Regions from separate parts of the Homo sapiens genome. Here region 2 is linked to region 1. A link means that fine-mapping ties the variant in region 1 to the expression of a gene that starts in the linked region. Tissue or cell type: whole blood. Region 1 holds a variant in brackets; the other region holds the start of a gene. All regions are shown on one strand. Distances are between the middles of the regions.

Region 1 (5,160 bases):
CTAGCACTGCCAGAGCTCGGCGATACAGGGGCAGTCCTGGGCCCCCTGCCCCCCAGCCCGGCCCGCCCTGCTGCTGTGCCAGCTCCACAAAGGGTGGCAGCCATCGAGGCTCCAGCTGGCACAGACACTGGCACAGGAGTTCAAAGGGGGGCAGTATTCCATTGGGGGGTTCCTTTCCAGCGGTTATTCCCCCTAACACTTTCTTCCACACATCAGGGGGTGCTTGGGACCTCAGCTTGCCATTCCCATCTAGCTGGAGCTGCAGGGCCCTGAGGGTGGCACCCCAGGCTGCTGTAGGAAGGGCTTGGAAAACGGTGTTGAGCTGGGCTAGCTGGTCTCCTATCAACTCAGTCCTCAGCAGGCGTGCCACTTCCTGCTCCGCCAGCTCAGTCCAACCAGCCTCCTCATCATCCCCAGCCACCAGCTGGGCCTTCAGCTGTTCTAAGCCTCGGTAATCCCGAAGCTCGGTCCTCAACATGGTCAGCAGTGCAGATGGGGGCAGGTGGCCCTGGAGGATGGAGGCCAGAGCCTGAGGTGCCCGGAATGTGCTGCTGTGTCTCAGTTCTTCTGGAGTGAGCTGGGCACCCCGCAGGCTCCGCCGCTGGTAGTACCCGCAGGCCTCCTCAAACACCAGATCCTTGGCTGAAGGCAACTCAACACCCTGTGGGGCTTCCCAGCCCACACAAAACAGACCCAAGGCTGAAAGCAGACGAAGATTCCCTCGGGTCTCCAGCTCTTCCTCATCCTCCATGCCGGGGGCTGGCGGTTCTAGCAGATGTACCCTGTCTGTACTTAGGACCTTCCTCTCCAGCAGCTGCCCACTGCCCATGTCCAGCAGTTCCAATGTGGAGCCCAGCACACAGGCCAGAGTGCCCTGAAATGTGCCTAGGGCTGCAGACCCCCACGGGCCTACAGGTGCCTCCTGCAGGGTGCCCACAGCCCGCGTACCACCGTGGGACTGCAATAGGCTCACAGTGCCCCCGAAGTCAAGCAACAGCAGGCCCTGGGGAGTTGGGGCCCAGGTGTGTACAGCCAGTGGCTCCCTGGGGGACAGCAACCCAGGAAGGCCTCGGAGCAGGGTCCGGAAGTCCCATGTGTCCCCTCGTCCAGGATTCAGACTCTTACTGTAGGAGAGACCAAGCCGTGGGGCAGCCACCATCACTTTGCCCTTGCCTGGGCTCCAGATGAGTAGAACGTGGGCCACGCCAGGCCAGGTGGTGGCAGTGGGCACCAGGAAGAGTTGTCTGCAGGAGGCCAGCAGCCCGAAGGCAGGGCAGTGGTGCAGCAGGACGTGTGTGCGGCCCAGGCTGGTGCTAGCTTCCCCGCTGGGCTCCAGAGTCCGGACGCACACACAGTGGCTGAAAGCGGCTGCTGGCGACCCTGACGGGCCCTCGGCCCGGGCCTGCCGCTCCTCGCACCACACCAGGCGGCCTCGGAGCGCCGCCACTGCCACAACGCGGGCTCCCCCGCCCGGACACAGCTCGGTGCTCTGCAGCGGCCGCCAGCCAGGCCCCACGCCCGCGCCCCACACCTCGGCCAGGCCACTCTCCCACACCAGCACCAGCGCCGGCCGCGCTGGCCACGGCAGGAAGAAGGCGTCCAGCGGGGAGGGCTGGCCGGCCGGCCAGGCCCGCTCTAGCTCCGCGCCGGGCCCTCGCGACGCGACTAGCAGCTGTGGGGCTACCGCCCCAGGGGGTCGCAGGAGCAGCAAGTGGCGGCCGTCCGGACTGCCACGGACTCGGACCGCTGAGTCCCCGGCCACCAGCTCCCGGAGCCGCGCCGCGCCGCCGAAGGCGCTCAGGTCCGAGAGCAGCCGCAGAGTCCCCGAGCGCTTCATGGCGCCGCTGCGCGGGAGCGCGCCCAGGCTTTGCCCAGGTCCAGCCGCCCAGCAGGGCGAGGCCCGATTCTCGGGGGAGCGGAGCAGGGCCAAGACTTCCGTCTCCCGTGGATGAGGTGAGCAGAGGCCGGGCCGAGCGTCGACTCCGCCCCGCCCGGCCGGCTCCGGGATGCCTCCCGCAGTCGCTGGGCCGACACTACACGCCCGCCGGGGGAGGAGCCACGGGAGCGCCCCAGGGGCTCAGCGCCTGGACCGCGCCCGCCCGGGCACGCTCTCGGCGCAGGGGGAGGCCCTTCCCCAGACCCCAGGACGCCGCCCAGTGGCCCGGAGTCCCACGCAGGAATAGGGATTCCAGCCCCCTGAGCCCCTCTCCCAAGAATTTCACCCCAATTTACTCATTCAGGAAATTTTCGTTGAGCACATGCTTTGTGCCAGGCTCTGAGTAGACAGCCCTAAACAAAATAGAAAACCTCAACCTCATGGAGATGACAATCTAGTGGAAATAGTAAACATGGCTGGGCGCGGTGGCTCACGCCTATAATCTTAGCACTTTGGGAGGCTGAGGTGGGAGGATTGCTTGAGGCCAGGCGTTCGAGACCAGCCTGAGCAACATAGGCAGACCTTGTCTCTATAAAAATTTTAAAAAGACAGAAAGAAAGAAAGAGAGAGAGAGAGAAGGAAGGAAGGAAAGAAAACCACTTCCATATCACTATGTGACAGCCTTCTCTATCCCCTAGTCCCTTTTACAGATAAGGAGGATGAAGCACAGAGAGATTACGTAACTTAACTAAGATCAAGCAGGTATTAAGTGGTGGAGGTGGGATTTCAACCACAGGCACTCTGGCTCCAGAGTCAGTGCAACAAATCACTTTATCATATCAACAACTCATCACCCAAACCAAAACAGAGAAACATAATTTAGAAGC[A/G]CTGAGCCTGTGTACCGACTCTTCAGTAACACCTACAAATTTGTATGCAGGGGTCCTTCCACCCCTTGACTGCCTTTTCAGGTGAGCAGTTTTCCTCCTCTCTCCAAGGCCAATCCCTCTTTATGAGCCCTGCCTCTCCTCCCCGGCCCCTACCTTCCTTGAGAACTTGCATCCATTTCTGTTTCACTGCCCTCATTCCGTCCTCAGCATAGAAATACCCTGTCATCTCTCCTGTCTTGGAATTCGTTCTTTCATCCTCATCTCCCCACTTCCACCTCCATCACTCCCTCCCCTTTTCCTTTCTCAGTCAATTTTCTTGCAAGGATGCTACATTTGCCACCTCCACTTTCTTTCCTTCTATCCTCAACCCACTACTTCCCTGAAGTAGCTTTTGCTGAGGTCTTCAAGGACATTTTTATTTGACAGCCTTCTCATTGAAAGTCCCTCCTGTGGTTTGCACTGCATCTTTCCTGGCTGGTTTTCCTTTCCTTTTATTTTATTTTATTTTTTTATTTTTATTTTTAGATAGCACTGCCTTCAGAGTTTTATTTGCCTTTGGTTCATCTTCCTCCATCCTTTATTGATTGATTGATTGAGATAGAGTCTCACTCTGTCGCCCACGTTTGAGTGAAGTGGCACCATCTTGGCTCAGTGCAACCTCTGCCTCCTGGGTTCAAGCGATTCTCCTGCCCAGCCTCCCGAGTAGCTGGGATTAGAGGCACCCACCACCACGCCCACCTAATTTTTGTATTTTCAGTAGAGACAGGGTTTCACCTTGCTGGCCGGGATGGTCTTGATCTCTTGACCTCGTGATCCACATGCCTTGGCCTCCCAAAGTGCTGGGATTACAGGCATGAGCCACCGTGCCTGGCCTATTTATTTATTTATTGAGACAGAGTCTTGCTCCGTTGCCCAGGTTGAAGTGCAGTGGCGCAATCTCGGCTCACTGCTATCTCCATGTCCCAGGTTCAAGCGATTCTCCTGCCTAAGCCTCCCTCCCTAGTAGCTGGGATTTCAGAAGTGCACCACCATGCCCAGCTACTTTTTATATTTTTAGTAGAGGTCGGGTTTTGCTATGTTGGTTGGCCAGGCTGGTCTCGAACTCCAGGCCTCAAGTGATCTGCCCGCCTTAGCCTCTCAAAATGTTAGAATTACAGGTGTGAGCCACTGTACCCGGCCCCTCCATCATCCTTTAAATGTGCTCTTCCTCCTATATCCTGATTCCACTTTGAGCCCCTTTATTTTTTTCTTTTGCCTACAGCTCAGACGTCTCTGCTAAGCTCCACACAAAAAAAGAGCATCCAAATGTCTACTAAATATTTATTTCTGCCTAAGATGTCTCATCTCACAGACATTTCATTCTCAACATGTCCTAAACATCATCTTCCTGCCCCAAACTGCTCCTCCTTCAGTTGCTCTTAGTTGACATAGATTTCTTTTGTTTTTGTATCCTATCCTCATATTTAGAGTAGAGCCTGACACAAAGTCTCCACAGATGTTTGGTGAAGGAATCATTACGTTTTCATGGGCACATGTTTGTGTGTGTGATATCACTTAGAAAACTTTTCCTTAAAAATTACAGAAGTAGGCCAGGCACGGTGGTTCACGCATGCAGTTCCAGCTACTCAGGAGGCTGAGGCAAGAGGATTACTTGAGGCCAGGAGTTGGAGTCTGTGGTGTGCAATGATTGTGCCTGTGAATAGCCACTGCACTACAGCCTGGGCAACATGGCAAGCATCCTGTCTCTTTAAAAAAAAAAATTACAGAAACAGACCATGGCTGTCTTAAGCAAAAATGAAGTTATTTAGAAGAACATAGGGGACTCACAGAATCTTCAGGAGAAAGGAAGAACAGGTGTGGCAAATGGTCATGAACCAAGACACCCACACCCACCAAATACTAAGAAGTAGGAAGCACGACTTTTTTTTTTTTTTTTTTAGACAGAGTCTTGCTGTCTCCCCAGGCTGGAGTGCAGTGGCACAATCTTGGCTCACTGCAACCTCTGCCTCCTGGGATCAAGCAATTCTTCCACCTCAGCCTCCCGAGTAGCTGGTATCACAGGTGCACACCACCATGCCCTGCTAATTTTTGTATTTTTTGTAGAGACGGGGTTTTGCCATGTTGGCCAGGCTGGTCTTGAAGGTCCTGGCCTCAGGTGATCCACCTGCCTCGGCCTCCCAAAGTGCTGGGATTACAGGTATGAGCCACTGTGCCTGGCCACAACTGTTTTTTTAGCCGGAACAATTTGTTAAAGATACCATGATCTCTGGTGCTATACAAGCTGATCACTGCACTGGAAGACAGCACCTGTTATGAATAAATTCTGATCATACCTTCTATTGGGGTTCACCTCATTACACCTTTCTCTTACACCTGCCTACTTTTTTATATTCTATT
Region 2 (5,128 bases), 680 kb before region 1:
CAACCCCTTCCCCCACCCCCCCCAAAAAAACCCAAAAAAATACACTGACTAAATTGCGGTGGATTCAGAGTTAATAATTATATAGTAACTTGCATTCCGAAGGTTAAAATTCAAAACAGAAATCTCACTATAGATATCTAGTACTCCCAGACAGAAAGAGACAGGAGTATAAGGTGGGGGATGGAATTGTATAGGGAGCGTCAGGAGTGAGGGTATGTGGGGGCTGGTTAGGAAGAGGGCCACTGCTCATTACGAAAACTTTCCCTTCTCTGCAGGAATTGTAACCGTGTAACAGCTGTTGGTCAGTGATAGCATTCATCCAAATGGAACAAAGTACAAAAGACACCTGTCCCCAAAATTAAGTATTAGAAGTGCCACAGATATAAGAAAGCAGCCTGTGGTTTGCAAACTGCAATTAGAATATAACATTAACAATCCCCTTCCACATGTTCACAACACCTCCCAGGCTCCACGACCTGGTAGGAACCTCCACTTTCCATCATCCCCGTTGCTGAAAAAGTGGATCTAGTTCCTATCTTTGACCAGCCCATCTCCAAAGGCTCTGACATTCCTAAACCAAACCTCTACCGATGTTATTTATTGGTTACTGGGGACAGCCTTTTCGAGATACTTACAGAAACAGACATGTGCAAAGGAAAAGTAAATTCTGTATTTACTATATTCTATATTTTGTTGTCAATACCTATACTTAACTTTACTGGTCCTGAGGGCTATAACATTTCTAGTAAACAAAAAAAATATATTTCTTCTGCCAGTTTATGATTTCCACTGGAAAAACAACCCCAACAAAGGCTAAAACAGAAGGGTCCCAACCCTCGAAAAGGGAATACACTGGGCTAGAAAATGAGCTACATTCCTTTCACATGGTATTTCTAGTATACACAAACATATCCTGAGGAAAAATTAGACACTTCAATGCATAAATAAATTGTGGTTTACAGATAACAGAATGTTACTTGGTCATGAACAGGAATGAAGTACTAGTACATGCTACGATGTGGATGGGCCTTATAAACATTACGCTAAGTGAAAGGAGCCAGGCACAAAGACCACATATTGTAGGATCCCGTTTATATAAAATATCCAGAATAGATAAATCCATAGAGACTGAAAGCAGACGGGTGGTTGCCAGGGGCTGGGGGAAAAGGGAGACAGAGAGTAACTGCTTAGTAGGGACGAGGTTTTCTATTGGGGTGATGAAAATGTTTTGGAACTAGATAGAGGTGGTAGTTGCACAACATTGTAAGTGTACTAAATGCCACTGAATTGTTCACTTTAAAATGGTTTTTGTCATGTGAATTTCAACTTATTTTTTAATCAGTATTTTAAAATAGAGGATAATGGGCAAAACAAGATGTATTTGTGAAAAGGCAGCCCTAAAACTCCTAGGGAAAAGATAAGTATTTTTGCTGGCACTCAGTTTCTGCTCTTGTTCACAACACAAGTTCAAGCGCTAAGTTGTATAAACTTTGCCACTACGCTATGCGTCTATGTGTGTATGCCTTTCTGAAAAAACGGGGAAAAGAACAGAAAGTGAAGAAAAAAGAATCATAAAGCTTTGCCACATGCAAGGAAGGAGGGGTGATTGCCCCCACTGCACCCCACCCAACTTGGCACCAGGAGTAACGCTCCCATTAGGGTTTTGAAATGCCAGCTGGAGCTGGAATCAGCACAAGCAAGCTTCTCTGCCTGGATAAAGAGCAAGCCACCCAGCAAGAAAAGCTAGGGTGCTCCATTTGCTGCCCATATTGGCATCAGAACCACCCTCTGGTCAAAAGCCCTGAGCTGGCTCAGATCAGCATCCGTGACTTGCTCTCCCAGGCCAGCCAGCCTAACAGCAAGAGCTTGTTACAGCTCAAGTGTGCTCCTCCTCCTGAGGGGTTCCACTCTGTTTCATCCCACCTGCCTTCTGAGAGTCCTCCCTCCAACCAAGTGCGCCATGGCTTACAGATTTTAAAATGGGGCCAAGTCTCTCCCAGGAACATAGTAATTTTTTTTAAACGTACTAAGATGCCCTCGGAACTTTCCCCAGTCCATCCTTAAAGAAATATCCTCAGGATCCCCTCCCTCACAGGCCAACTCAATAGCCTGTGTACCCCTACACACACAGACGTACATACTGCATTACTGCCTGGGACACCTGCTCCACAGAGGGACACGAATAAGGCCCACATCCTCAGCTTGGCACCGCTATCCAGCCACAGTCACCCCAGCCCACCTAACCAACCTGCCGTCTCAAACGCCCCTCACTCGCTTGGCATCATGCCTCTGCCACCTCCTTGACACCAAAACTGTCACAGGTGTCCCTCAGCTAAATACCGACGCCCCTTTAGATCCTGTCCACGCCAGGCATAGACGCCCCTCTCGGGACCCCTCAACTCTTGGCAACAACACTCCTTCAGACCCCTCCAGCCAGGCCTCGACGACCCCCAGGACCCAACATGGCCCAGACGCCCCCTCCCCCTTACCTGCGGGGGTTCAGCCCTGGCTGACAAGGGGCTGGGCAGCGCCTGGAGGAGCAGGAGCGCCATGCCACCCAGGAGCCTTCTCCTCTCCATCCCCCTCCTGCTCCTGCTCCTCCGCCACGGCGCCGCCACCTCCCTCCTCCTCCTCCCTCTCCTCCTCTACCCTCTTCTTCCTTCTTCCCTTCTTTTCCTGTTTGACGCTCCCCTCCCGCTTCCGGCTCTGCTCCACCCCGCCCCGCGCAAAACACCCTCCCAGACACGCGAGAGACTCTCCAGTTCCAGCGCTTCATTGGCCTTTGCCCTTTGTCCATTGATCAATGTAGCTGTCGATCAAATATAAGTCCCGCCTTCCCCTGAAGACGAAGCGATGCAGCCAATAAAAAGTAGGAGGAAGCCGGACCATCTTGAATGCTGCGAAGAAGTGTAAAATTCGTCCCAACCCGCAGAGAGTGGCGGAAGCAGCTTCATAAGGGGGCGGGGCCACCCAGGTGGATGGAAAAGTCTATTTCTGATGTAGCCATCTTGAGTGTGGCGGAAGTACTAGTTTTCCAGTTTTCCACATCAAAAAAAGAAAAAAGGTTTAATGTTTCTCAAGGGTGTTGGAAAATAAATTATTCCTGAAAGGTAACCAGGCGCTCCTGAAGAGGAAAACAATTGCAATGTAAAAATATTTTAATGTCTTTTGTCTTGAAGCACAGCACTATTACCAGGATGCCTCTCTTGGTCTCAACTGCCCAAATAGCAGCTTAGGTCCGTTTGAATTCCCTAGAAGATAGTACCTTTATCTGAGGCATAGTGCTTCGTCACCCCAAGTTCGACGGACAAAATTCTGGTTCTACTTCACAAATTGCTCTGAAATCCATCATCCATTGCTTCAATCCATGTTCTTCTAGCTAAATACAAATGGCTTCCCTGCTGCCCTGCAAGTTGACAATTCTTCCTCTCAAATTTCCGCCACACACTACAACCATACCACATTAAACCAAATATTACTATATCATGGCCTCTTCTTTTAAATACTTCATCTACCTACAGAATAGAGAGTCCAAACTTCCCAACACGGTCCTCTCTGTGACTTCGTCCCTGTCTACTTCTCTTTATCTCACCTCTCACCACTACATTTTCCCACACATTCCACTCACACTGACCATTGAAGAGATGCCCAGTAACTTCATTTACATATTACAGATACAGTTCCCTGCTTACAAACTCCTAGCCCCATCTCCTTGCTGCTTCTTCTGGATTCTTGTAACACTTATATCTGCGTGCCTGGTTTGCAGTTTTTTGTACAGCATACCAGGTCTTTCTTCTTCTTCTTTTAAAGCCTATAATATCCTGTACAAGGCTCAACCAGAGCTTGATCAATGTTGGTAAAATAGCCAGGTGTGGTGGCTCATGCTTATAATCCTAGCCCTTTGGGAGGCTGAGGCAGGTAGATCCCTTGAGCTCAGGAGTTTGAAACCAGCCTGGGCAACATGGAGAGAACCCTGTCTCTACAAAAATAAAAAAACTAAATTAGCCAAATTAGCCAAGCATGGTGGTGCACACTTGTAGTCCCAGCTACTTGGGAGGCTGAGGTGGGACAATCACCAGAGCTAGGGAGATTGAAGCTGCAATGAGCCTTGATTGTGCCACTGTACTCCAGCCTGGGCAACAGAGTGAGACCCTGTCTCAAAAAAAAAAAAAGGCCAGGTGCGGTGGCTCCTGCCTGTAATCCCAGCACTTTGGGAGGCCGAGGTGGGCGGATCACATGGTCAGGAGTTCGAGCCTGGCCAACATTGTGAAACCCAATCTCTACTAAAAATACAAAAAATTAGCCAGGCGTGGTGGTGCATGCCTGTAGTCCCAGCTACTCAGGAGGCTAAAGCAGAAGAATCGCTTGAACCTGGGAGGCAGAGGTTGCAGTGAGCCAAGACTGTGCCACTGCACTCCACCCTAGGTGACAGAGTGAGACTCTGTCTCAAAAAAAAAAGAAAAAAAAAAGTTGGTAAAATAAATGGACAAAGGAAGACCCATGGCAAATAACACAGTTGACTTTAGCAGTCAATTTCCTCTCAAAAACCTGTCAAAGTGTTTTACAGCCTGGCCCAGTCTAGCCCACATCTGAGCCCAGAGGAAGTTGTTCTTGGCTTAAGTGTTGGAAAAATGGGAAACAGGTAAGAGTTAAGTCAGTCTTCCCTCAGCTTAAGAAAGTCCATAGTTCTGCCTTTATCTTGATCCTGCTTTTCCAAGTACTATAAAAAGTGACACGTATTTTTGCCAATCTCTCGTTTCTTAGAAATTTATCCATTCCACAAGTCAAGCTCCTTAGAGGAGAAGTAAAAATTGAGTACTAGGGAAGGACCAAATTATTTTCATGGCACAAGGTCTCTAATTCCTGGCCTCAAAAAGTTGTAAGTCTTCCACATAAAGGCTAGGTTTCATCATCACTAAGAAACCCCAGGTGGGATGTAGTGGCTCACGCCTGTAATCCCAACACTTTGGGAGGCCAAGGCATGAGGATTGCTTGAGGTCAGGGGTTCAAGACCAACCTGGGAAACATAGTGAGGCCCTCTGTCTACAAAAAATTTAAAAATTAGCTGGGCATGGTGGCATGTACCTGTAGTCAGGAAACCTTTAGGATTCTGGTTCTAGCCAGGATT

Evidence for each region. PIP is the estimated chance that this variant, and not a neighbour inherited with it, causes the effect.
Region 2: WBP1L starts here. The variant in region 1 is fine-mapped to the expression of WBP1L in whole blood (TOPMed, PIP above 0.99).

The regions. Positions count from the first base shown.
Region 1 is chr10:102,062,152-102,067,311 of GRCh38, reverse strand. HPS6 (HPS6 biogenesis of lysosomal organelles complex 2 subunit 3) reads right to left here and starts at 1,963. Exons shown (of 1, transcript NM_024747.6): 1 at 1-1,963. The coding sequence starts at 1,837. RefSeq lists a silencer at 1,542-2,211 and an enhancer at 2,422-2,471. The variant A/G (reference allele first, on the strand shown) is at 2,764.
Region 2 is chr10:102,741,505-102,746,632 of GRCh38, reverse strand. It overlaps WBP1L (WW domain binding protein 1 like), which reads right to left and starts at 2,685. Exons shown (of 4, transcript NM_001083913.2): 1 at 2,490-2,685. The coding sequence starts at 2,579. SFXN2 (sideroflexin 2) reads right to left here. Exons shown (of 12, transcript NM_178858.6): 12 at 3,141-5,128. RefSeq lists enhancers at 1,819-2,048, 2,989-3,038 and a silencer at 2,549-2,708.